Homo sapiens: one gene and its partners. The protein of the gene in region 1 purifies or fractionates together with the protein of each later gene. This does not show direct contact. Each region holds a gene or a part of one and is shown in the gene's direction. Other genes may lie near its edges. The genes, in order: TMEM169, SLC38A10, MACO1 and NDUFAF1.

What was found.
Region 2: the proteins of TMEM169 (region 1) and SLC38A10 purify together in Homo sapiens (co-immunoprecipitation; 2 studies listed by BioGRID and IntAct, with this or other methods). This does not show direct contact.
Region 3: the proteins of TMEM169 (region 1) and MACO1 purify together in Homo sapiens (co-immunoprecipitation; 2 studies listed by BioGRID and IntAct, with this or other methods). This does not show direct contact.
Region 4: the proteins of TMEM169 (region 1) and NDUFAF1 purify together in Homo sapiens (co-immunoprecipitation; 2 studies listed by BioGRID and IntAct, with this or other methods). This does not show direct contact.

The regions. Positions count from the first base shown.
Region 1 is NC_000002.12:216,098,901-216,103,296, forward strand, and holds the end of TMEM169 (transmembrane protein 169), read left to right. Parts: intron 1-1,019; coding exon 1,020-1,642; 3' UTR 1,643-3,883; downstream 3,884-4,396.
Region 2 is NC_000017.11:81,292,293-81,299,336, reverse strand, and holds the start of SLC38A10 (solute carrier family 38 member 10), read left to right. Parts: upstream 1-4,029; 5' UTR 4,030-4,415; coding exon 4,416-4,514; intron 4,515-7,044. UniProt on the Homo sapiens protein: Facilitates bidirectional transport of amino acids. May act as a glutamate sensor that regulates glutamate-glutamine cycle and mTOR signaling in the brain. The transport mechanism remains to be elucidated.
Region 3 is NC_000001.11:25,482,872-25,489,902, forward strand, and holds part of MACO1 (macoilin), read left to right. Parts: intron 1-1,244; coding exon 1,245-1,403; intron 1,404-2,741; coding exon 2,742-2,924; intron 2,925-6,301; coding exon 6,302-6,422; intron 6,423-7,031. UniProt on the Homo sapiens protein: Plays a role in the regulation of neuronal activity.
Region 4 is NC_000015.10:41,399,497-41,407,382, reverse strand, and holds the start of NDUFAF1 (complex I intermediate-associated protein 30, mitochondrial precursor), read left to right. Parts: upstream 1-4,886; 5' UTR 4,887-5,239; intron 5,240-7,886. UniProt on the Homo sapiens protein: As part of the MCIA complex, involved in the assembly of the mitochondrial complex I.

The DNA.
Region 1 (4,396 bases):
ATGTGTAGTGTGGTATGTATGGGTATGTGGTGTGTGTGTAGAATGTGTATATATGTGGTGTGTGCATACGGCATGTGGGTGGGTATGTGTAGTGTATATATGTGGAATGTGTGGGGGGCAGCATTTGTGTGCATGTATGCTGTGTGTATGTGTGGTGTGTGTGATGTGTATGTGTGTGTGTGGTGTGTTATGTGTGTATGTTGCATGTATGTGTGATATGTATGGGTATGTGGTGTGTATATGGTATGTGTATGTGTTGTATGTGGTATGTGTGGGGAGGTTGTGTGTGGCATGTGTGTGGTGTATGTGTTATGTATGGTGTTTGGTATATGTGGTGTGGGTATGTGGTGTGTATGTGGTATGTGTGATGTGCATGGTGTGTGGTGTGTGGTGTGTGTATGGGATAGTGTAGTGTGTGTATGTGGTACGTGATTGGGAGGTGGCATGTGTATGTGTGTGTATGGTGTGTATGTAGTATGTGAGAGGGTGTATGTGTATGGTATATGTGGGATGCATGTGTGTATGCGTGCAGCCCCTGGATGTGAGGGCTGGATCAGGCATGTGAGGGGCCCCCTCTCAGAAAGCACAGAACTAGGCATGAGAAGGGAAGGTGGTGGCCGTCCATCAGTCCAGTATCTTCACAGCACTTGTTACCTAGAAATAGGATCATCATTTGCATCATGTCTGTATCAAAGTTCGTCACACTCCTCCGTGCCACAGAGATTGTGCCAAGATTGAGGCCCCAAAAAGCGGAGAGAGTAGGTGAAAAGCTTAACCTGCCTCACAATTTTATCAGGGCCCAGGCACAAGGACTGAGAGTTCATGTGGGAGCAATAACACCAGTGGTCACTCTCCCGAGGGAGACCCACTCAGTCCGCCATTGAATCACTGACTCAGGACTGTGCCAGATGGTGTAAAAAAGGCTACTCTTGTCCTCATGCCCAGCCTGGGAGGGTGCAACATGGAGATGCAATGCCCACTCTTCTGATCTTGACTCTCACCTCCTTTGTACCCTGCAGATATGTGGAACCTGCCTCTGGACAGCCGCTACGTCACCTTAACTGGGACCATCACACGAGGGAAGAAAAAGGGTCAGATGGTGGACATCCATGTCACATTGACAGAGAAAGAGCTGCAGGAACTGACCAAACCTAAAGAGTCATCAAGGGAAACGACGCCTGAAGGAAGAATGGCCTGCCAGATGGGAGCTGACCGTGGGCCCCATGTGGTCCTCTGGACGCTGATCTGCCTGCCTGTGGTTTTCATCCTTTCTTTTGTTGTCTCTTTCTACTACGGCACTATCACCTGGTACAACATCTTCCTCGTGTATAATGAGGAAAGGACCTTCTGGCACAAGATCTCGTATTGCCCTTGCCTCGTTCTCTTCTATCCAGTGCTCATCATGGCCATGGCTTCTTCCCTCGGCCTCTACGCTGCTGTGGTCCAGCTCTCGTGGTCCTGGGAAGCATGGTGGCAAGCTGCCCGGGACATGGAGAAAGGCTTCTGTGGCTGGCTCTGCAGCAAGCTGGGTCTGGAGGACTGTTCTCCCTACAGCATTGTGGAGTTGCTTGAATCCGACAATATCTCAAGCACTCTCTCCAACAAGGACCCCATCCAAGAAGTAGAAACCTCCACGGTCTAAACTCCCAACAACTTACTCCCTCCTCTGGCCCCAGTAGCCTATATATCATCTTAAAATTCCAGCAGATTATTTCTTTAAATTACCCCCTACTCTCCGCAGTTCTTCTGGGAAATCAGAGTCCATACTGATCAGTTTTACCATCTTGAGGGTTCCAGGAGGGCATGGAGCAGACAAGCAATTGTGCCAAAGCAGTTCACCCAATGGACAAACTCTTTTTGATTCCCTGCCCTAAAATCACCATTTATTTAGGACAATGGAACTCTGCTGTGTGTCGTTTTGGGAGCCTGGAAGTGTTACTGGTGCCTGGAACTGAGGGGAGTATGTGACTAAATGTGTCAGGGAGAATAAAGAACCTCGGGGTAACCAAATCCACCAAGATAATAGACAGGGATGGAGTGAGACATTTAGGAAGCTGGACTACCACAGTGTAGCAGAAGGTAAAGATTTGTGTGTATCATTTAGATTTAGATTTAGCTGCATAGAATTAAAACCCTAAAATATCAGTGGCTTAAACAAGATAGAAGTGTATTTCTTTCTTGTGCAGAAGAAGTCTGGAGGCAGACCATCCTGGGACCCTGTGAAGTAATCCAGGTCCCAGGCTTCTTCTATTTCTCTACCATTAGTAGGATGTGACCCTTCTCACCCTTATCCCCAACATCCCAGTGCTGATTACATCTTCAGCCATCACATCCATGTTTCTGATAAAATAGAGGAAAGGGCAGAGAAGCACACACCCTTCCTGTTCAAGGAGACTTCCCAGAAGTCCCACTCGATTCTTCTTATATCTCATTGGCAAGACCTCAGTCACATGATGTCATGAGCAAAAGAGGCTGGAAATGTAGTTGTTTGGCTGGGTAGCTATATTCTCAGCTAAATACTGGGTTCACGCTAATTGGCAAGAAAAAGGAAGAATGGTTATTTGGGTTTTGTTTTGTTTTGTTTTGTTTCGCTTTAGAGACGGAGTCTCACTCTGTTGCCGAGGCTGGAGTGCAGTGGCACTATCTCGGCTCACTGCAACCTTCGCCTCCTGGGTTCAAGCAATTCTTGTGCCTTGGCCTCCCCAGTAGCTGGGATTACAGGTGCGTGCCACCATACCCGGCTAATTTTTGTATTTTTTTTTTAGTAGAGATGGGGTTTCACCATGTGCCCAGGCTGGTCTTGAACTCCTGACCTCAGGTGATCCGCCTGCCTCGGCCTCCCAAAATGCTGGGATTGTAGGCAAGAATGGTTATCTTGGTAGGCAAGTCAGAATCTTTGCCTCACAATGATCATTTAAATACATTCAGAACCCCCAAACTGCTAATATGGTTTTATTTATTTATTTATTCATTCATTTGTTTATTCATTTATTTATTTAGGCCTGAATCTTACACAGAGAATTTATATATAGATATTAGCTACATATACTTTGAATATGCTATACATCGATATTAGCACCTCACGTACTTTGCAATTAAGCTTCTGTAATGTCATGTGATTTGTTTTTGGAAAGGAATAGTGGACAGGAGAGTACAATTTATAATAGTAGCATAACTCTTTGTCCTGGTGGTGGAGGTGGGACGAGGTGGTGATATTTAACCTAGATTAAAGACCAGGAAGGGAGGAATTGCATCTGCCAAAGTTTCCTCCAACAGCGATCAGTAGCCCTAAGTACAAAGAAGCCAGATTTAGCCTTCTGTTGTTTGGCAAAACCTCACTCAGAGCTTTACTCCCTCAGACCTTTCTGAGTTTAACCACAGACATGATCTTTGCTGTGCTGAGAAACTTGTGTCTACCTGGCCTGTAGGGAGTGTAAACTAGATTAATACAGATTAACAGACTCTGAACTTAAAAAAAAAAATCACTCCTAAGGGTGTCCTTCTAATTTCAAAATATCAACTCCTAAGAGGTCAGCAGAATTTGGAGATTTGGGTCCTTATAAGAATAGCTGGTGCTCTTTTCTTGTTCATGTCTCAAAACAAAGCTGTTGAGAGAACTGCTGCGATGAATCAAACCAGAGGAGTTTGTCATGCTCCCCACAGAGAGCCCAGGACATTTGCCTGATGTATGGTGCTGAGCTCCACCTTCAGAGGAACTCTCTCTTTTTTTTTTTTTTAAATAACTATTATTAGCTTGACAAGAAAAAAAAAGTGCCCAACAGTTTTAGTGTTAATCTTGGTGCTCTATGGTGCATTAGCAGAGATATGAACAATTAAATGAAGACAAAGAAAATAAAAATAAAGTCTGATTAACTTTTGCTCATTTTGTCTTTGAGGCTCTTCAAAATTGCTTTGAATGCTATGGTTTGCAGAAAAAGGGTGAGCATGATGGCTGTCCTATATGTATGTAATGATTTTAATATGAATCCTTGTGTCTGGACTCTTTCCATGCTTCACTAATTTTGGGGAATTCTATTTAGGTGGACTGTTTTCACAAACCACACTAGAAACTTGCAACCACATTTGTCCCATTTTTCTGGGGTTGGGGAAACCAATGGGAAAAGCCAAAAAGTTGTGATTAGGACACAGGTAAAGTGGCTGTGGTGCCATGGAAGAGTGTGGGATGATGATGAGATCATACCCAAGAGATACCTAGATAAAGTTGACATGGCCTTCATCCTAGTTGGGCTCATCATCTAGTGGAAGAAATAGGCTTGTAAATTAAAACCATTTCAAAGGGGTTCTATAGAGGTATGTAAAAGCCTAGACTAGAGGAAGGAAAAACAGAACCAAACAGAACCAAAGCATCTCATTTTTGCTCTCAGCAAACACCACA
Region 2 (7,044 bases), on another chromosome or scaffold:
AGCAAAAATGAGTAAGCATTTCACAGAAGAAAAATGGACAATAAAAATATGAATAAATAATTCACCTAATTTGTAATAAGAACAAATTAGAGCCACAAAGAGATTCCATTTCATTCACCGGACTGGCCAAACTGACAATAACCAAATGTTGGAGCAGAGGCCCACAAGCTAAGCCCTGAGGCCGCACTGGGCCAGCTGCTGTTTTTGTAAATAAAGTTTTATTGGAACACAGAGATGCCCACTTGTTTACATATTGTCTCTGGCTGCTTCTGATCTGCCATGGCAGAACTGAATATTTGTGAGACCATTTGGCACTGCGAGAGACTAATGACACAACTGAATATTTGCGAGAGACCATTAGGCCCGCAAAGCAAAAAATATTTACTGTCTGACTCTTAATAGAAAGTTTGCCAACCTTTGCTGTAAACCAGGAAGAGCTCTTATAGCTACTTTGAAGAGCAATTTGGCAAGATCTAGTAAAGTCATTTAGGTATGCATACGCATACTCTGCAGTTCCACTTGTAGGTGTTTACCCTAGAGAGACTTGAACAAACACACGTTCAGGAGACAAATCTGTTCACTGGATCACTGTCTCTGAGGCAAGTGACTGGACACAACTCAGGTGCCCTCGGCAGGAGAATGGATGCGGATCTGGGCTATTTAAGTAACGGAGTTCCACAGAGCAGCAAGAATGAGACTCAGAGCACATGCAACATGATGGCAATTCTTGTGAACAAAGTTGAACTGGCCGGGTGTGGTGGCTCATGCCTGTAATCCCAGCTCTCAGGGAGGCAGAGGCAGGAAGACGGCTTGAGCCCAGGAGTTCGAGACCTGCCTGGGCAATACAGTGAGACCCCGTTCTCCACAAAAAGGAAAAAAAAAAGACAAAAAAAGAAATTTAAGTGTGACAAAGTTGAGTGAAAAAGAAAGTTGCAGAATAGCACATATATGTAATTCAATTCTTACAATAGTCCAAAATGCAAAGGTGCCCCATCCCAATACACTACTGAACTAGGTAGGCTACAGCTTTGGGTTCATGAAACAGAGTCCAAAATCATGGTGAGCGCAAGGAGCAGGTTTGTCTCTCCCTCCCAGAGCAGCTGGGAGGAGGTAGTCGTGGATGGGCATGGTGGCTTGGCTCCATGAGTTGTCCAGGGATCCAGGATCCTTCTAGCTTGGTGCTCCACTCTGCCACGGTATCACCCTTGTCTGCACTGTCCGAGATGGCTTCCTACCATCGTGTCTAGGTTCCAAACAGCATGATGAAGGAGCGGCAGACCCCCTCCTAAGAAATGACCTAGAAGTTTCTCCTGTCATTTCTGCTTCTTATTGTCCAAAACTTGGTCACATAGCCAGCCCTACCTGCAAGGGACACTGGCAAGTGTATTCTTTTTTTTTTTTTTTGAGACGGAGTCTCACTCTGTCGCCAGGCTGGAGTGCTGTGGCGCGATCTCGGCTCACTGCAACCTCCGACTCCCTGGTTCAAGCGATTCTCCTGCCTCAGCCTCCTGAGTGGCTGGGATTACAGGCACACACCATCACGCCCGGCTAATTTTTGTATTTTTAGTAGACAGAGTTTCACCATATTGGCCAGGATGGTCTCGATCTCCTGACCTCGTGATCCACCCACCTTGGCCTCCCAAAGTGCTGGGATTACAGGCGTGTGCCACCGCGCCCAGTCTTTTATTTATTTTTTTGAGACAAAGTCTTGCCCTGTTGCCCAGGCTGGAGTGCAATGGCACGCTCTTGGCTCACGGCAACCTCTGCCTCCCGGGTTCAAGCGATTCTCCTGGCTCAGCCTCCCAAGAACCTGGGATTACAGGTGCGCGCCACCACGCCTGGCTAATTTTTTGTATCTTTAGCAGAGATGGGGTTTCACCATGTTTGCCAGGCTGGCCTCAAATTCCTGACCTCGTGATCTGCCTGCCTCGGCCTCTCAAAGTGCTGGGATTACAGGTGTGAGCCGCCATGCTCGGCTGGAAGTGTATTTTTTATCCTAGGCAGTCATACGTGCAGGCCAATTCCTATTAATTTGGAAAATGGAATAAACGAATATTAAGAGACAGAGAGTCAGCTGGGCGCAGTGGCTCACGCCTGTAATCCCAGCACTTTGGGAGGCCGAGGTGAGCAGATCGATTGAACCCAGGAGTTTGAGACCAGCCTGGACAACATGACAAAATCCCATCTCTACAAAAAAAGTGAAAATTAGCTGGGCATGGTGGCACACACCTGTAGTTTCAGCTACTGAGGGCCTGAAGTGGGAGGATCACTTTAGCCCAGGAGGGAAAGGCTGAAGCAAGCTGAGATTGTGCCACTGCACTCCAGACTGGGTGACAGAGTGAGACTCTGTCTCAAAAAAAAAAAAAAAAGAGACAAATAGTCTTCCCCATAATTGTTTAGGGATATATCCATATATGGTAAACCTTTAAAGAAAAGTAATGAATTGATGGAATCTGGATTGTGATGTCTCAGGATAGCAGGGAAGAGGGGAAGAAGGTGCTGGAACTGGGGAGGAACTGAAAGGGAGGATCTAAGTCTTCGGTAATATTTTGTTCTTAAAGCTCAATAGCGGGTCCATGGTATTTGCTATTTGTGAAAACATACATGTAAATTGCCCAGCCTACCTCGCATGCATAACATTTGATGAAAATTACATAATAAAAAGGAGGTTATGGAATGTGTATGCCATTTCATTTATATAAAAGTAAATGGGCTGGGTGCGGTGGCTCATGCCTGTAATACCAGCACTTTGGGAGGCCGAGGTGGGCGGATCACCTGAGGTCGGGAGTTTGAGGCAAGCCTGGCCACCATGGTGAAACCTGGTCTCTACTAAAAATACAAAAATTAGCCGGGTGTGGTGGCGGGAGCCTGTAATTCCAGCTACTTGGGAGGCTGAGGCATGAGAATAGCTTGAACCTGGGAGGTGGAGGTTGCAGTGAGCCAAGATCACACCACTGCATATACAGCCTGGGCGACAGAGCAAGACTCTGACTGAAGAAAAAAAAAAAAAAGAACGCAGGCATTTGTTATTTTGCCTGCGTATTTAATTAGTCTTTACCCAGGCATTTCCTCCTGTTCTCCTGAAGGTGGGGCACAGCCTTACTTGGTGGCTGCACTGCCAGTGCCTGAGGAACGGGCCTCTGTTCTAAGACACCTGGTCCTGCAGGTGCTGCAGACACGGCCTCCTTTCCTCCGCCGTCCTCCCCCAGCAGCCTGGAATCACTTGCTGCTTCCCAGCCATTCGGTCTACGCGCTCATTCATTAGACTCAGAGTGAGCAGCTAGGTGCCAGGAATCCACAGATCTATCGGGACCCTTCTCTGTTCTCTCCTCTCCCCGGTCTCCATTTCTACCCGAGGAATTCTCATTTGTCCTTCAAGCTCCAGCCTAGAAGCCACCTCCTTCTGGAAGCCCTCCCGGGTTTCCCTGTTCATGTAAGCCTCCACCTCTCCTGTCCCCTCCAGGAATGTCCCTTGCTCTTTTCGTGTGAAAAGGTGAAGTTCAACATTGCCACTGATCTGGGCGCAGTTCGGCAGGGCACCGCCTCCCCTTGGAGCTGTGTGGCCTTAGCGGAGTGGCCGAGCCTCTCTGTGCCCAGCGTTTCATTCCTACCTCCTAGGTGCTAATTCCTCACAACAGACTATTTTTCGGCTGAGGCAGTCAGGGCCCCCGCCCCCGTGCCCTGGCGCCAAGCACTCGCCCCAGAATCGGTCCTGGGAATAAAGGTCAAAAAGGAACCCTTAAACCCGCTCCTCCCCGGAAGGCACAGCGCCTCCCCTTCTCTCCAGCCCGCGACTGCCCATCCAAACCGAGGCCTCGCGGGGCGAGTCCCTTGTCCTCCAGCTCGTTGAACTGGGGCCCCGGGCACAGGTCGGCTGGACCAGCTTGGCGAACCGGACAGCTGCGAGACCCTCAGGTGCCCACCGGCCCAGTTTCCGCCCGCCCCTCCGGGCCCGCCTCTCATTGGCTCGCGTCCCACCAAACCCTACCCCCTGGCCGTCACTTCCGGGCAACGGAGCCCGTGGAAGGCGGAAGTGTGAGCGCCGCGGCGGCAGCTGAGTTGGGCTGAGGTGTCCCTAGCTGGCTCTGCGGCTCTTCCGGGTCTGGGCTCGGAGATTCACAGGCGGCCCGCGAGGCCGAGCGAGGGACGCATGGCCCTGAGGCGGCCGCAGGGCTTGGCGGGGTCCGGAGGTTGACCTCGCCCCCGCAGCCGGCCTTCGAGGCTGCCTCCTCCAGGCAGCCTCTGGGGCCCGCGCCCGCGCCTGCTCAGGCTCCCGTGTTCAGGCTGCCCATCCCCTCCCCACCGGCGTCCCGGACGTTGGGACCTGTGACCGTGGCCTCGGGCTGGGCTTCCAAAGCCGGCCGCAGCCCGGCGACCCCCGAGGCCTCTCGCCCCGGGCCCCTAGACCTCTCACTATGACCGCGGCCGCCGCCTCCAACTGGGGGCTGATCACGAACATCGTGAACAGCATCGTAGGGGTCAGTGTCCTCACCATGCCCTTCTGCTTCAAACAGGTGAGTCCGGTGGGCCCGGAGATCACCGCCCTCGCCTCCCCCGCAGAGGGGGCGTCTGGCTGGGTCGTCCTGGTTAAAGTTCCCGCCGGGGCAGGGCTTCGCTGGGCGGGTGCAGGCGGCCGCGGGCGGGGCGACCCTCTGGGTCCCGGCGCAGTTCCCGTAGAGAATCCGTGGATGAGAAGCGCACGGCGTTGGCCCTGGCAGCCCTTGTCAGCCCGGGCCGGAAAGTTCCCCACACTCAAAAACTCGATACCGAAGCAAAGTGTAACAAAGCAAAATGATCCTCCAGAATCGGAAGGGAACGGTGGGACTCCGTATTTTTACATTTTATCGTGTTTTTAAAAACTCTGACCCAACTGCACCTGTCTTCAGAAGCACACAACTCACCACTCCCAGGCTTCGACACTAGATAGGGACCTTGGTTGCAAGGTGATTAAAAACATCCACCAGGTTATACACCTAAGATCTGCGTTTCACAAAAACCGCACATTTGGCAGGGGGTGGTGGCTCACACCTGTAATCCCAGCACTTTGGGAGGCCGAGGCGAGTGGATCACCTGAGGTCAGGAGTTCGAGAACTGCCTGACCAACATGCTGAAACCCCATCTCTACTGAAAATACAAAAATTAGCCGGGGGTGGTGGCACATGCCTGTAATCCCAGATACTTGGGAGGCTGAGACAGGAGAATAGCTTGAACCTGGGAGGCGAAGGTTTCAATGAGCCGAAGGTTGCAGTGAGCCGAGATCACGCCATTGCACTCCAGCCTGGGCGACAGAGGGAGACTCCGTCTCAAAAACAAAAACAAAAAACTGCACATTTGATCTAATGTGTGCAGACGTTACCACAGTTGGAAAAAATCTCAAATACAAAAAGTTTAGCGTCATTCCAGCATTGAATAACACATGAAAGAAAATGGCCATTTCTAAGTGTCATCTGTTTAATCTACAATAAACAAGCATTTAGTGCTTTGGAAAAGAAAGGCTGACTGAAACGTTACCAAGTAGGTAGAAAAATGAAAACAACATGTATATTTTGAAACAAAGTGGCACCAGTAGTTTAATTTTAGATTAGCTTAGCAAACACTGTGTTTTTCATATTCATTATCTTTGGAATAAAAATATCCAAAAAATTTTTTCAGCCTGGGCAACATAGTAAGACCCCGTCTCTACAAAAAAAATTAAAAGTTAGCTGGGCATGGTGGTGCATACCTGTAGTCTCAGCTGCTCGGGAGGCTGAGGCAGAAGGATCACTTGAGCCCAGGAGTTTGAGATTACAGTGAGCTATGATTGCACCACTGCACTCCAGCCTGGGCAACACAACAGTACCCCATCTCTAAAAAAAAAACAACTTTTTTTTGATCAAGGAATTTTCAAACCCTCCCGTGCAGCCCTCCAGGCTGTTGTGTCTGAGTTGTTTGCCTGATATGGTTGGTGAGCCTGTCAGGGGAAGACAGGGCTACATGCCTCCAGAGCCCCCCGGGCAGCATCTGGTCTGGGCGTGGAGAATCCCAGCTTTCTGCCAGCCACCTCTGGGTGTTTCTGGACTGACTCCATGTCCCAGTGTCCACTGTGACTTGCCTGGCAGCAGAACTGCATTCTGGCATGTGGAGCAGTAGCTGGTCCTTCTCCTGCAAGTCAAAGACTGTTATCTTTGTTTTTTCAAGACGGAGTCTCGCTCTGTCACCCAGGCTGGAGTGCAGTGGTGCAGTCTCGGCTCACTGCAACCTCTGCCTCCAGGGTTCGAGTGATTCTCCTGCCTCAGCCTCCCAAGTAGCTGGGATTACAGGCATGTGCCACCACGCCGGCTAATTTATTTATTTATTTATTTATTTATTTGTATTTAGTAGAGACAGGGTTTCCCCATGTTGGTCAGGCTGGTCTCGAACTCCTGATCTCAGGTGATCCACCCACCTCGGCCTCCCAAAGTGCTAGGATTACAGGCGTGAGCCACCGTGCCTGGCCCCAAATGCTGTCATCTTTGATGCCTGTCGGTGAAGTGCCACCGTGGAAGGGGCTCTGGTTTAGACACCTGTGAAAGTACATCTTAGGGCCCAGACGATCCAGCTATCTCGAGCCTTGGACCACCTGCCATGTGGTGGACATTAGGCCCCTGCCAGAGCATGTGCTGATTAGCCGGGCATCTGCACAGACCTGTCAGGAAGTGAAGGACTAGAGACGTCCTTCTGAGTCCTGAGGGCTGCCCAGAGGGAGGCCCAGTTGCTCTGATCTGGCCGCAGCGTCTCCTCCACGGCAGCCTTCTTGGACTGGGGCGCAGGGAGACGCCAGCAGGCGATTTGGGGATGTGTGTGTTTAGTGTTTGGCAGCCTTGGCATTGAAAAACTTTGGATTAGTGTTTTTTTTTTTGTTTTAGTAGTTTTGATATATTTATATATATACATAGCTGGGCGTGTTGGCTCACGCCTGTAATCCCAGCACTTTTGGAGGCTGAGGAGGGTGGATCACGAGGTCAGGAGTTCAAGACCAGCCTGGCCAAGATGATAAAACCCCATCTCTACTAAAAATACAGAAAT
Region 3 (7,031 bases), on another chromosome or scaffold:
ATAAGTTCTCATTAAATAGTAGCTGTTGTTATTATTCCTTCTGGCATATATTTAATCATGGCCTTCCTTGTCTTATTGTTTAATCATTTAAATTATGTATTTCTTGGTTCCTATTTCTTTGTTCCTAATTGTGAAGTTTTCCCATGAAGAAAGAGACTTGATTTTATAGTTTTCGTTTGTTTGTTTTTTGTTTTTTGAGACAGAGTCTCACTCTTGTCACCCAGGCTGGAGTGCAGTGGCATGATCTCAGCTCACTGCAACCTCCACCTCCTGGGTTCAAGTGATTCTCCTGCCTCAGCCTCCTGAGTAGCTGGGATTACAGGCACGCGCCACCATGCCCAGCTAATTTTTGTACTTTTAGTAGAGATGGGGTTTCACCACGTTGGCCAGGCCGGTCTTGAACTCCTGACCTCAGGTGATCCGCCTGCCTCGGGCTCCCAAAGTGCTGGGATTACAGGCATGAGCCACTGCGCCTGGCCGATAGTTTTTGTTGACCATTTTCAGCACTACATATGCATAGTAGGTCTCCAATACCTGTCACTTAAAGTGAAACTATTACTGCAGTAAAGAAAATAGATGGAACAAGAGTAAGGAATTGACGAGAAAAGATAGGCTTCATTTTACAGATGGAGTTCTCTTATGATTCTTAGAGCATGTAATTTGTTCCTTTTTTCATTGTTATTGAGTCTCGTGAGCTCTTCTGCCGCAATCACCAGAGTTGTGAACGTCATTCAGCAAGGATGCTGCAATTTCTGGAGGTCGTCGCAGACCGTTTTCTTCTAGGCCCATGGTGGGACGCAGTCTCAGACAGTAGATTCTGATTTATCAAAATATCACAAAGCATTAAGTGGTAGGTCATGTGCTAGTTGTTTGAACATATTTCCCTTGCTGAGGGCATGAAAAGCCACCAGAAGGGAGCCTTTAGTCTTCAGCCACCCTCTCTGCTGTCCCTTTCTCCTTTATCAGCAGCTCGGATGGATATTCACAAGCACCATACTCACCTGTCACTATTCATAAACAGGGGGAAGTTGAAAGTTACACCCCAGTAGGAAGAGGTAGGGACCCAGGTGGAATCATTCAACAAAATTAACCCAGTTGCAGACAGGAGTCCTCATCATGGCAGGAACTGCCAGCGGGGTCCTTTTTCTGCCATTCACCCAGCAGTCCAGGACCCCCACCAGGTCCCTCCCAGCTCTGTGGGTGCCCTCACCTAGATGAAAATGCTGCATTTCTCATTCTCCTAGGCTGGAACAAGACATTAAAAAGTTAAAGGCTGACCTGCAAGCCAGCAGACAAGTGGAACAAGAGCTCCGCAGTCAGATCAGCTCCCTTTCGAGCACCGAGCGAGGGATCCGCTCAGAAATGGGCCAGCTTCGGCAGGAGAACGAGCTGCTGCAGAACAAGTACGTGCACCTTTCAGGCCTTTGGCCGTAAGCCCGGCAGCTTCACTGCTTCTCCTGTTGCCAGGGGTTGGAGCACAAGATTTATGGTGACAGAGACCTGCTGAGAGGTTTTTAAATAAAATGTTTAAAATACTTTATTTAGTACCAGATATTCAACATGTTTATAAAATCTATAAAAACTTATTTCATTGCCACAAAACAGTTTATTAATATTACTGTTTTTGTCTTCTCTCATTTAATAACTTCTTAGTTTAAAATAGTTATTGAGTTTTTGGATAGTAAAATTGACAAGAAGTAGTTCTGTCACATTTTGAAAATTTTGCTCCTTTGAGTGAAAATTTCTAGAGGATTTGACTATATTTACTTTTATTTCCAGAACTAAAAGATGACATTGAACTTTGATTTTATTTGAAAAGGCAGGCAGAAAGCCAGGTCTTCTGTGTGAATTCATTTAGGCTTTTGATTAGTTCATTCTGGAATTACTTCTTAACTCAGTGTAGGTCTGTCCTTTTTTCTTTTTTTAAATCTCCCAGCAATGTGTGCCCGTGGTAGTGATGATCATTACAGGCTGTTGGCTTTCTGGGCTTTCCCTGTTGAAAGAGGAGTTCAACATTTTTAAGGAATGTAACTCAAAAGCTAGGGCATTACAGGCAAATAACCTCTCCATTGCCTCTGACCAGCATTTGTGGTGGTTCTAGCATTGATATGTAGAGAACATCCCAGTGATAAACTCACCTCATGCTGATAGGTAAAGCTGGGGGTGGTAGTAAGCAGGAAATATGGCTGAAATTTCTATCTGAAATTAAGCATCCTGTGACTCTAAAAGAGGATTTGGGGACACTGTGAGCAAACATCCTGAGCTGGAAAGGAAAAGCTGTAGTAGGCTACAGCAAAATTGTATTCAGGAAAAATAAAAACCTTCCCCTTTCCACCCCTTACCTTAGTTTCACTGGGGCTGGTCCCATCAGTGGTTCTTTGGTGGGACTGAAGTTCTTTCAGGGTGCTCTGGAACATTAGAATTAGTTCTACAATTATCTTCCCCTCTGTTCAAAATTTGTTTTACCCTGTTTTCTGGATGACCTTTTGTAGATCACTTACTTGAACAGAGCAGAGGCTAGGTCTTAATCTCTGTTTTGTAAGGCAGCTTGTTTATTGGTGTTTAGGAATTATTAAAGAATAACAGTGTGTTTTCCTCAGGCATTCTGGGCATTGACATTTTTGATTTGCTGTTCAAACCTCCTGTTTAATTGGCCTTAAGGTGATAAAGAGATGTTTCTCAAGGGTTTATAGTGGGCATTTGTAATTTTAAGACTTTATATGACAATCATTTCCATATAGGTTACATAATGCTGTGCAAATGAAGCAAAAAGACAAGCAGAATATCAGCCAGTTGGAGAAAAAGCTAAAAGCTGAGCAGGAAGCCCGAAGTTTTGTAGAGAAACAGTTAATGGAAGAGAAAAAGAGGAAGAAGTTAGAAGAAGCCACTGCTGCCCGGGCTGTTGCGTTTGCTGCTGCATCTAGGTATGTCCATGTCACCTGAGTGTTTAATCCAAGGTTGGCTTTCCTTTACCAACAAAGACATGGGAATTTGGTGCCTTGGGCAGGATTGGACGTACAGCAATCATGCACGGATGGATTGCTTTTAAGTACTGTTTTATTAACTGGTTTAAACTCCATGTGTGCAAGCTTGCACTATCTTATAACAGCTTTATCCCTCAGTGACCTCATCTATAAAGTGGGATGAGGGAATCACCATGTTTCCCATACCTGGGAGGCAAAGTACTGCTCATAAAAAGGTTTCCAGTCACTTTTTGTCAGACTGATGATTACTAAATGCATTGAGAGATTCTATCTGGAAGTTCGTTCCCTTTAGAGAGCTATCATTACTCTCCACTCTTAGGTATATGTGTTTCTGAAGTTTTTATCTTAAAATGGAAGAAAGATAAAATCTTGGTTGCCCAAGCACTGTGTACTGGCTGCTCAAATGGATATCAGCAAACTGTCAAATGAAATGGAAAAAAAAAGTGAAACATAAGTCTCTACTAGATGGAATTACATTTATGGCATAATGAAAATTGGGGACTACCTCCTATACCACTGGAAAGTACCCCTGTGTGCAAGTATTCCAAAAACTATTAGATAGTTAAGAGCTTTTTTTTTCTTTTTGCTTCTACTTCACTTATCACTTTTTCCTTTGTTTTCTTGACTAGTGAAGTCCCTCTGCATGTGGGAATCAGTTAGGTGTTTGCAGATATAGAGCGAGGGTAAATTATTATTTATTTCACTTTTAAATTCCATCCTAATTTGTATCTACGTGGTATAATTCAACTGTAATTTTTCCTTGAATTTTGCTTTGTCGTAATTAAAGTTAAGTAATTTAACTTTTGGCATGTTGATAGCCTTCTTTGTGGGTTCTGGCATTTGCAGAATAATTGGTGAATCATTTCACCTTTTAGGAAATAACAGCAAGTGAGAACTCTCTCCTGTGTGATCCTGCCTCCCCCCAGCAGATGGCTGAGCTGGCTTGGCCCATCAGCATCTATACAGACTTACAAGGCCCTTGACTAGCCTGCCTACAATGTGGGATTGTTTGTTTGTTTGAAGATGTATTTGCATTCTGAAGCACTTAAACTTGCAGGAGATGTTCTTGAACAGTCATCTAGTGATGACTGCTCTCCTCTCTCCTCAATTCATACAGCACCTGCCCTTTCTGAAAAATTCCACTCAGGAGGACATAGCAGTTCCTTAACGATATTGCTTAGTGTCTCCCATGCCTGAGAATCAGTAAGTTGATTTCAGTGTCTACCCCAAATCCCTTTTGCTTCCAGTTAAGCTTATTTATCTTATCCCTGGATAGTCCTTGTTTTTCATAACTTATTCTTTTTTTCCTTCTTTTTGAGACGGAGTCTAACTCTGTCACCCAGGCTGGAGTGCAGTGGCGCGATCTCAGCTCACTGCAGCCTTTGCCACCCAGGTTCAAGCGATTCTCCTGCCTCAGCCTCCCAAGTAGCTGGGATTACAGGCTCCTGCCACCGTGCCCAGCAACTTTTTGTATTTTTAGTAGAGACGAGGTTTCACCATCTTGGCAGGCTGGTCTCGAACTCCTGACCTCAGGTGATCTGCCCACCTTGACCTCCCAAAGTGCTGGGATTACAGGCGTGAGCCACCACACCAGGCCTGCCATAATTTATTCAGTAAATCTCAGGGCATAAATCTCTGACTGGACCTTCCGTTTTGGTAGGCAGAGAACACCTACTTTCTTCATTGGGCTGTTTCTGGAACCTAGACAGTACCAGCTTTGGACTGGCCATTGCCATCATCTCTTTTAGCTCAACCTTATGATAGCCCTGAGAAGCAGCTCAACAGTGTGCCCTTATTTTTCTGTTTACTCCAGTCTTGTGGCAACTTTATGACAAGAAAGACAAAAGTCCCAATGCGTAGCCCCTCAAAAGTGGGGGGAAAATTTTTTTCTAGTTCACCGCCCCCTGCTGGACATAGTACATGTTCAGTTCTATCTGGCTTTGTGTGTATTGTCTCAAGTCTCATGGCCTGGTGGGAAGTTTGCTGGATTGGGAAGCCAGAAAATCTCAGTTCTTATCCCTATTCTAAGACCTAAAAGCTAGGTAACCTTGAACTAGTATTTTATCTATGTAGCCTCAGTTTTCTTATCTGGAAAATGGGATAAATATACCCTAGGTTGTTATAAGGATTGAAGAAGGTAGTATGGGTAAAGTACCTTAGTGTCTGGCTCATCTAGACACTCAGTAATAATTATTGTATATATGTATGTATTTTGAGACAGGATATCATTCTGTCACCCAGACTGGAGTGCAATGGTGCAGTCATAGCTTACTATAACCTGAAACTCCTGGGCTCAAGTTGTCCTCTTGCCTCAGCCTCCTGAGTAGCTGGGACTACAGGCATGTGCTACTATGCCCAGCTATTTTTTAAATTTTTTGTAGAGACAGGGTCTCTCTGTGTTGCCCAGGCTGATCTCAGACTCTGGGCTCAAGCAGTCCTCCCACCTTGGCCTTGGGAGTGCTGGGATTACGGGCATGAGCCACCATGCCCAGCCCAGTTATTTTAGAGTATTATTGAAATTATCAAAGGACACAGAGAACTGAGCAGACTGAGCCAAAAGCTAAAACCTGACAGACCCTGGAGTATAAAAGAAATTAAAAGAAATATAAATCCCACAATACAAGTAAACCTATAGTCTTTTTTTTTTCTTTTTTTTGAGACAGAGTCTCACTTTGTCACCCAGGCTAACGTGCTGTGACACCATCTCAGCTCAGTGCAGCCTCTGCCTCCCAGGTACAAGCAATTCTCCTGCCTCGGCCTCCCGAGTAGCTGGGATTACAGATGTGTGCCACTACACCCAGCTAATTTTTGTAGAGAGAGGGTTTCACTGTGTTGGCCAGGCTGGTCTTGAACTCCTGACCTCAAGTGATCCACCTGCCTTGGCCTCCCAAATTGCTGTGATTACAGGCGTGAGCCACTGCACTCGGCCAACCTATAGTCTTTTTTAAAATTTTATTTATTTATTTATTTATTTGTTTTTGAGATGGAGTCTCACTCGGACGCCCAAGCTGGAGTGCAGTGGCACGATCTGGACTCGCTGCAACCTCCACCTCCTGGGTTCAAGCAATTCTTCTGCCTCAGCCTCCCCAGTAGCTGGGACTACAGGCATGTACCACCATGCCCAGCCAATTTTTTTTGTATTTTTAGTAGAGACGGGGTTTCACCATGCTGGTCAGGTTGGTCTCGAACCCCTGACCTCAAATAATCTGCCTGCCTCGGCCTCCCAAAGTGCTGGGATTACAGGCCTGAGTCACAGGGCCCAGCCCCAACCTATAGTCTTTTAAATCACTTTATTTCCTTCTCTTCTTTTTCAAAAGGGGAGAATGCACCGAAACCTTACGGAATCGGATCAGAGAACTAGAAGCAGAGGGCAAGAAGCTCACGATGGACATGAAGGTGAAAGAAGACCAAATCAGAGAACTAGAACTAAAAGTCCAGGTAAGGGGGGAACAAAAGACTTCCCTTGTATTTGAATTCCACTTTTATGCTAAACTTGTGCTCTGTGTTGCAGTGTAGAGATGATGCCTTTTAATATAGATCAAATCTCATTGCATCTGAAAAATCTCTATGTGACAAAAAGATTTGAAGTTCTAATCTTGTCCAGCTCATTTCAAGTCATATTAATGTAGCCAGATTCTAATACAAACCAGAAATGTTGACAATCCCTTGGTATGTTTTATACCAGGATTTAACTTGCTGTAGATTCATTTAACTTTTTCAGGTTATAGGCCAGATTAGTGTCCTTTGAAACTTACACACCTCCTTTTAGCCCCAACCCTCTTTCTATTGCCAGGGGACTGACCCTCCTGCATGGCTCTGAGCCTTGCAGATTGTTGTTCATAGCAGTGAATGATAGGAAAGGTGCTAGTGCTATGGACGTAGCCTGTTTTATGGGCTGTGTATACTTTAGCCAAATATTTGTCATTTAAACTAATGTCATATATTGTAAAGTTACAGTAATTTGAGCCAGGTGGGACAAGTGAAAAATTACTGTCAAGTCAGTGGACTAGAATGATGGCCTGGAGTACAGTACCGAAAAAAATACGA
Region 4 (7,886 bases), on another chromosome or scaffold:
AGCATGTATCCTGGATTTAGCAGACAGACGTGGTTTGAATCCCAGCTCTGCTACTTCAACAGCTGTGATAAGCATGTGACTAGCATGTTACTTAACATCTGTTTTCTTACCTGGGAAATAGGTGTAATATGAGTACCTACTTCACAGAATTGTTCTGACAATGAAAAGAGAAAATGCCTGAGAAGTGTTAAACTCAATGTCTAGCCTAGAAGCACTCATTACACCCTTCTTTGGGCCAGTCTTGTACCTAATACCTCCCTCTGCTATAGTTTCTAACTGTGCTGCAGTTATTTGTTTGATGACATGCCCTCTATTGGACTGTGTACCTGTTGAACACTGTCCTATAGTTCAGCAATAATAGCTAGCTTTTTTGTACATTTACCAAATAATTCCAATAATTATGCAAATATTTTACATATATTATTTGATTTAATACTGATTGGAAATGACATTAGGATCCTGCTTAACACAAACTCAGCAGCTTAAAAAAAAATTAAAGAAAAAGCTCTCCTGGCTGGGCACGGTGGCTCACGCCTGTAATCCCAGCACTTTGGGAGGCCGGGGCGGGTGGATCACGAGGACAGGAGATCGAGACCATCCTGGCTAACATGGTGAAACCCTGTCTCTACCAAAAAAAAAAAATCAGCTGGGTGTGGTGGCATGCACCTGTAGTCTCAGCTACTTAGGAGGGCAAGACAGGAGAATCGCTTGAACCCGGGAGGTGGAGGTTGCAGTGAGCTGAGATCACGCCACTGCACTCCAGCTTGGGCATCAGAGTGAGATTCGGTCTCAAACAAACAAACAAAAAAATACCCTCCTGGCCAGGCGCAGTGACTCATGCCTGTAATACCAGCACTTTGGGAGGCCAAGGTGGGTGGATCACTTGAAGTCAGGTGTTGGAGACCAGCCTGGCCAACATGGCGAAACCCTGTCTCTACTAAAACAACAAAACTTAGCTGGGCGTGGTGGCGCACCCCTGTAGTCCCAGCTACTCAGGAGGCTGAGGCAGGAGAATCGCTTGAACCTGGGAGGCAGAGGTTGCAGTGAGCCAAGATTGGGCTGCTGCACCTTGGCCTGGGTGACAGAGCAAGACTCCGTCTCCAAACAACAAAAACAGGCCGGGCGCGGTGGCTCACGCTTGTGATCCCAGCACTTTGGGAGGCTGAGGCGGGTGGATCACCTGAGGTCAGGAGTTGCAGACTAGCCTGACCAATATTATGAAACCTCGTCTCTACTAAAAATACAAAAATTAGGCAGGCATGGTGGCATGCACCTATAATCCCAGCTACTCGGGAGGCTCAGACAGGAGATTCGCTTGAACCCGAGAGGTGGAGGTTGCAGTGAACTGAGATTGCGCCATTGCACTCCAGCCTAGACAACACGAGGAAAACTCCATCTCAAAACAAGCAAACACACAAACAAAAAATGATCCTGCTACCTTCTAAGGTTGGCCAGGGCTGAACAACACTTCTGCCTCTTTTGTCACTGCCTGCAATATAGGGGACTACAGGGCTTCACCCATTCATATTCGGATTCAGAACAGCTTCAATGTCCTCTGGTCCCAGGCTTCTGAATGATGCTCTTACTGTTCATTTCCTTTTAGGCAGGGGCTTCTCTTTGTAGTTGCCTGCTCTTAGTTTCCCTCACTTTGTTCCCTTTGTCATATTATCATTTATGGCATTTGTCAGCCTTATGTCCACAAATAGATAGATGGTCCCCTGTTGTCTCCATGTCTAATTTGGATGGGTTTCAGTTGTTGTTGTTGTTGTTGTTTTCTTTTTTGAGGCAGAGTTTCACTCTTGTCGCCCAGGCTGGAGTGCAATGGCAAGATCTCAGCTTACTGCAACCTCTGCCTCCCAGGTTCAAGCCATTCTCCTGCCTCAGCCTCCCGAGTAGCTGGGATTACGGGTGCTCGCCACCACCCCTGGCTAATTTTTGTATTTTTAGTAGAGACAGGGTTTTACCATGTTGGCCAGGCTGGTCTCGAACTCCTGATCTCAGGTGATTCACCCGACTAGGCCTCCCAAAGTGCTGGCATTACAGGTGTGAGCTACCCTGCCTGGCTGGGTTTCAGTTTTGTTGTGAACAAAGGTATAGTTAAGATTTGGTGGAGCCCACTACCACTGTCTGGGAGGCCAAGGAAGAAGGTGCTACAGACATGGTTGGGTTAACCTACATAATCATTTCCCCTCAGCTCTTTGCCTTTATTTCCTTCCTTTATTTCCTATATTTCCTTCCCCTAGTGACTCTACCTTTTCTTCTGCCTGGCATTGTCATGTCCTTCCTTTCTATTTGAATATTTTTTTCTTTCTTCCAGCCTTCCTTTCTCCACTGGTAATAAATACATATGGGGCTTCCTATACTTAAGCAAACAGCCTGGCACAGTGGCTCACGCCTGTAATCCCAGCACCTTGGATGGCCGAGGTGGGTGGATCAACTGAGGTCAGGAGTTGGAGACCAGCCTGGCCAACATGACGAAACCCTGACTCTGCTAAAAATACAATAATCAGCTGGGTGTGGTGGCATGCACCTCTAATCCCAGCTACTCAGGAGGCTGAGGCAGGAGAATCACTTGAACCCGGGAGGCGGGGGTTGCAGTGAGCCGAGATCACGCCACTGCACTCCAGCCTGGGTGAGGAAGACTGTGGTTCAAAAAAAAAAAAGCAGCAAACAACTAATGATTAGAGACATGCAAATCAAAACCAAAATGAGATACCACTTCACACTCATTAGGATGGCTACTATATTTTAAAAACCAAAAAAACAAGAAACGTGTCAGTGGGCTTGGAAAGAAGGTGTGAAAAGATCAAAGATCAAAAACAGCAAGAGAATGCAACAGGATTTAAAATCAGTAAGAGAAGATTTTAAGGAGAGGAGCCAAGGACAGTCAAGCATTTCCATCCTAGAAGGATGTGGCCATTTACAGAAATAGGGAGACAGGAGGAATTAGTAGGAGGAAAAATGACACATTTAGTTTTAGACATTTAGTTTTCTTTATTGCTCAAGGATATTTCCTAAAAAACAACAACAAAAAGACATTTCGATTTTTTCTTTTTCTGAGACGGAGTCTGGCTCTGTGGCCCAGGCTGGAGTGCAGTGGTGCGATCTCGGCTCACTGCAAGCTCCGTCTCCCGGGTTCACGCCATTCTCCTGCCTCAGTCTCCTGAGTAGCTGGGACTACAGGCGCCCGCCAGCACGCCCGGCCAATTTTTTTGTATTTTTAGTAGAGACGGGGTTTCACCGTGTTAGCCAGGATGGTCTCGATCTCCTGACCTTGTGATCCGCCCGCCTCGGCCTCCCAAAGTGCTGGGATTACAGGCGTGAACCACCGCGCCCGGCCGATAACTTATATTTGAAACTAGAAAAGAGGTAGAGGCAGGATGGGCCATGGAGAGACAGCCCGCATTAAAGGTTGTGGGAAGAGAATAGAAGAGTCAGTGATGGGGGCAGAAAGGTAAGGTTTGAGGGGGCAAGTGTAGAGTCTAGAGAAGCCAAGCCGAATTTGAGGAAGAGGAGGCGGCGCGGAAACTAGTGAAGGAGAAAACATGGAAAGGGCTAGTGTATTTAGTGAGCTCCTTCGGAACCTTAGAGAACAAAGGTGTTACGGAACTATATGCTCTCAAATTCACACTAAGCACTAAATTCCCGCCGCTATGGTACATTCTGGGGAAAGGAAAAACAGCGCAGTCTGGACCCAAGAAAGCTCACAGCGTGGCAAAGGAAGTGAGAAGTGAGTGAAAGATACAATGTTGATTCTGTCTTCCCTGGCAGTAAGAAAAAAAAACAAAAACAAACAATGTTTAAGTGCTTTGGCCGGGCATGGTGGCTCACGCCTGTAATACCAGCACTTTGGGAGGCCGAGGTGGGTGGATCATGAGGTCAGGATTTCGAGACCAGCCTGGCCAACATGGCGAAACCCCATCTCTACTAAAAATACAAAAATTATCCGGGTGTGGTGGCACACACCTGTAATCCCAGCTACTTGGGAGGCTGAGGCAGGAGAATTGCTCCAACCCAGGAGTCGGAGGTTGCAGATCGCGCCACTGCACTACAGCCTGGGCAACAGAGTGAGACTCCGTCTCAAAAAAAAAAAGTGCTTTAAGAGAGGTGTGCACAAGGTACAAACAGATGCCCTGAGCAACTGGCGACCGTGTGGGGCGAGACTCGGGAAGGGCTGGTAGGAGGGGCTGCTGTCCAGGTGCGTGGTGGTCCTCAAGAATTCATGGGGGCAATTCCAGCAGAATCGGCCTTTTGAGGCCTCAGGCAGTTCTTGTGGGGACCGAGGCGACAGATAAGGAAGGAAGGGATACAGGCGCGTTAGCAATAACTGGGTTCTATTTGAAAGACGCAGGGGGCCGGGCTTGGTGGCTCGCGCCTGTAATCTCAGCACTTTGGGAGGCCGAGGCGGGTGGATCACGAGGTCAGGAGATCGAGATCATCCCGGCTAACATGGTGAAACCCCGTCTCTACTAAAAATACAAAAATTAGTCGGGCATGATGGCGCGCACCTGTAATCCCAGCTACTCGGGAGGCTGAGGCAGGAGAATCGCTTGAATCTGGGAGGCAGAGGTTGTAGTGAGCCGAGATCGCGCCACTGCACTCCAGCCTGGGCGACAGAGCGAGAATCCGTCTCAAAAAAAAAAAAAAAAAAAAAGACGCAGGGATGGAGTTTGCCGCCTGAAAGGATACAGGAAGGAGAGGCGAAAAACTTATCTGAATTCTCACTGCTTCCTTACAACTGGCGACCAAGTGGACCAAAAACCTCCAAAAACCTCAGTTGGCTGGGCTACGGGGTCCTTGCTGTCCTTCCTGGGCTTCTGTACTCGGCCGGAACTTTGGTGTTCTGACGCCTTGTTTGGCATCGGAAGGGAAAAGCAGATGGACCTATACGGGTAAAGTGGCTTCTGGGCGGAAGGTACACTATAGGCTCGGGGAGGTAAGCGGCGGCAGGCCGGCGGTTGGTGTGTCCCGGGTGTGGGGAGGCGACAGAGCCCTGGCACTTGAGGGTTGAGGGGGCCTCCCCAGCGCGGCGAACCGTCTAGCCTCCGGAGGCCAGGCCGTGAGTGCGGGAGGTATACGCCAAGGCGGAAGAATTTTGCCACTCACTACCTGTGTGACCTCGGGTAAATTAGCCTTGGAACGTCAGTTTCTTCGTCTCTATAATTGAAATAATAATAGTACCTCTCTCAGGATTGTTGTGAGCCGTCAGTGAAACACTTAGAGCAGTTTCTGGCACATGGTAAGGCATGGATAGCTTTACTAATTCTACTCACTTCTAGCTGCGTGGATTGTGTTGTCAAAACCCACCGTCAACCTCAGGGCGGTATTGTCCAGTTAATAGTTTAGATTTTCTGTTTACTGGTAGAAAAAAAAAAATGAAACAAAGCATTTATAATTAAAGTTATATTATTAGAGAAGTAACACTACGGAGGGTTTGGAAAACATTTTATGAGCTATCATTTGTTTCTCAAATTTCGGTATGTGTAGAGGTAAAATCATTTAAGTGCAACCGGCGCGGGGGAATTTAAATATTATCCATAATTCCGGGACCTCAGATCAACTGTTAATTTTTCCTGGTTCCCTTAACGTTTATAATACATGTGAAAACATACTGTTTACATGGTTTTGATTTATCAACAAACCTTATTGATAATGTCGGCTGGGCGCGGTGGCTCACGCCTGTAATCCCAGCACTTTGGGAGGCCGAGGCGGGCGGATCACTTGAGGTCAGGAGTTCGAGACCAGCCTGGCCAACATGGTGAAACCCTGTCTCTACTAAAAATACAAAAATTAGCTGGGCGTGGTGGCGCACGCCTGTAATCCCAGTGACTGAGGCAAGAGAATTGCTTGAAACCAGGAGGTGGAGGTTACAATGAGCCGAGATCGCACAACTGCACTCCAACTTGGGGGACAGAGCTGGACTCTGTCTTAAAAAAAAAAAAAAAAAAGTTGGGCATGGTGGCGGGCACCTGTAATTTCAGCCACTCGGGAGGCAGAGGCAGGAGAAGCACTTGAACCCGGGAGGCGGAGGTTGCAGTGAGCCAGGGTCGTGCCATTGCACTCCAGCCTGGGTGACAGAGCGAGACTCCATCTCAAAAAAAAAAAAAAAAAAAAAGGTTGGGCGCCGTGGCTGACGCCTGTAATCCCAGTACTTTAGGAGGCCCATGTAGGCGGATCACCTGAGGTCAGGAGTTCGAGACCACTCTGGCCAACATAGTGGAACCTCATCTCTACTGAAAAAACAAAAACAAAAACAAAAATTAGCCGGGCATGGTGGCGCCCGCCTGTAATCCCAGCTATTCAGGAGGCTGAGACAAGAGAATCGCTTGAACCCAGGAGGCGGAGATTGCAGTGAGCGGAGATCTCTAGCCTGGTGACAGAGCAAGACTCCGTCTCAAAAAAAAAAAAAAGTATTGATAATGTCATTTTACCTATTGGTGTCTGTATCCTACAGAAAGGAAATACGTATCTGACTTGTTTCATAGGATTTGTGTGTGGATGGCATGAGATAATATATATCAGGGTGATATGAAAGTGTTAGGAGTAGGCTGGGCATGGTGGCTCACACCTGTAATCACAGTACTTTGGGAGAACAAGGCAGGTGGATCACGTGGTCAGGAGATCGAGACCATCCTGGCTAACACGGTGAAACCCTGTCTCTATTAAAAATCCAAAAAAAAAAAAAAAAAAAAAATAGCTGGGCATGGTGGCGGGCGCCTGTAGTCCCAGCTACTCGCGAGGCTGAGGCAGGAGAATGGCGTGAACCCGGGAGGCGGAGCTTGCAGTGAGCCGAGATCGTGCCACTGCACTCCAGCCTGGGTGACAGAGTGAGACTCTGTCTCAAAAAAGAAAAAAAAAAGTATTAGGAGTGGTATTCATCAGGTGCAGTGGCTCACGCCTGTAATCCCAGGTACTCCAGAGGCTGAGGCAGGAGGATCACTTGAACCCAGGAGTTAGAGACTCGTCTGAGCAACATAACAAGACCTCATCTCTATTTTTTTTTTTTTTTTTTTGAGATGGAATTTTGCTCTTGTTGCCCAGGCTGGAGTGCAATGGCGTGATCTTGGCTCACCACAACCTCCACCTCCTGTTCAAGCTATTCTCCTGCCTTAGCCTCCCAAGTAGCTGGGACTACAGTTGTGCGCCACCACACCGGGCTAATTTTGTATTTTTAGTAGAGATGGGGTTTCTTCATGTTGGTCAGGCTGGCCTCAAACTCCTGACCTTGTCATCCACCCACCTTGGCCTCCCAAAGTGCTGGGATTACAGGCGTGAGCCACTGCGCCTGGCCTTACAATTTTTTATTTTTATTTATTTATTTTTTAGACAGAGTCCTGCTCTGTTGCCCAAGCTGGAGTGCAGTGGCTTGATCTTGGCTCACTGCAGCGTCCCACTCCTGGGTTCAAGCGATTTTCCTGCTTCAGCCTCCCGAGTAGCTGGGATTATAGGTGCTTGCCACCACCCTATAGGTGCCCGTCACCACACCCAGCTAATTTTTGTATTTTTTTTTTTTTTTTTTTTTTTTTTGAGAAGGAGTCTCGCTCTGTCGCCCAGGCTGGAGTGCAGTGGCGGGATCTCGGCTCACTGCAAGCTCCGCCTCCCGGGTTCACGCCATTCTCCTGCCTCAGCCTCCCGAGTAGCTGGGACTACAGGCGCCCGCCACTACGCCCGGCTAATTTTTTGTATTTTTTTAGTAGAGACGGGGTTTCACCGTTTTAGCCGGGATGGTCTCGATCTCCTGACCTCGTGATCCGCCCGCCTCCGCCTCCCAAAGTGCTGGGATTACAGGCGTGAGCCACCGCGCCCGGCCTGTATTTTTTTTTTTGAGACAGAGTTTCACTTTTGTTGCCCAGGCTGGAGTGCGATGGTGCAGTCTTGGCTCATTG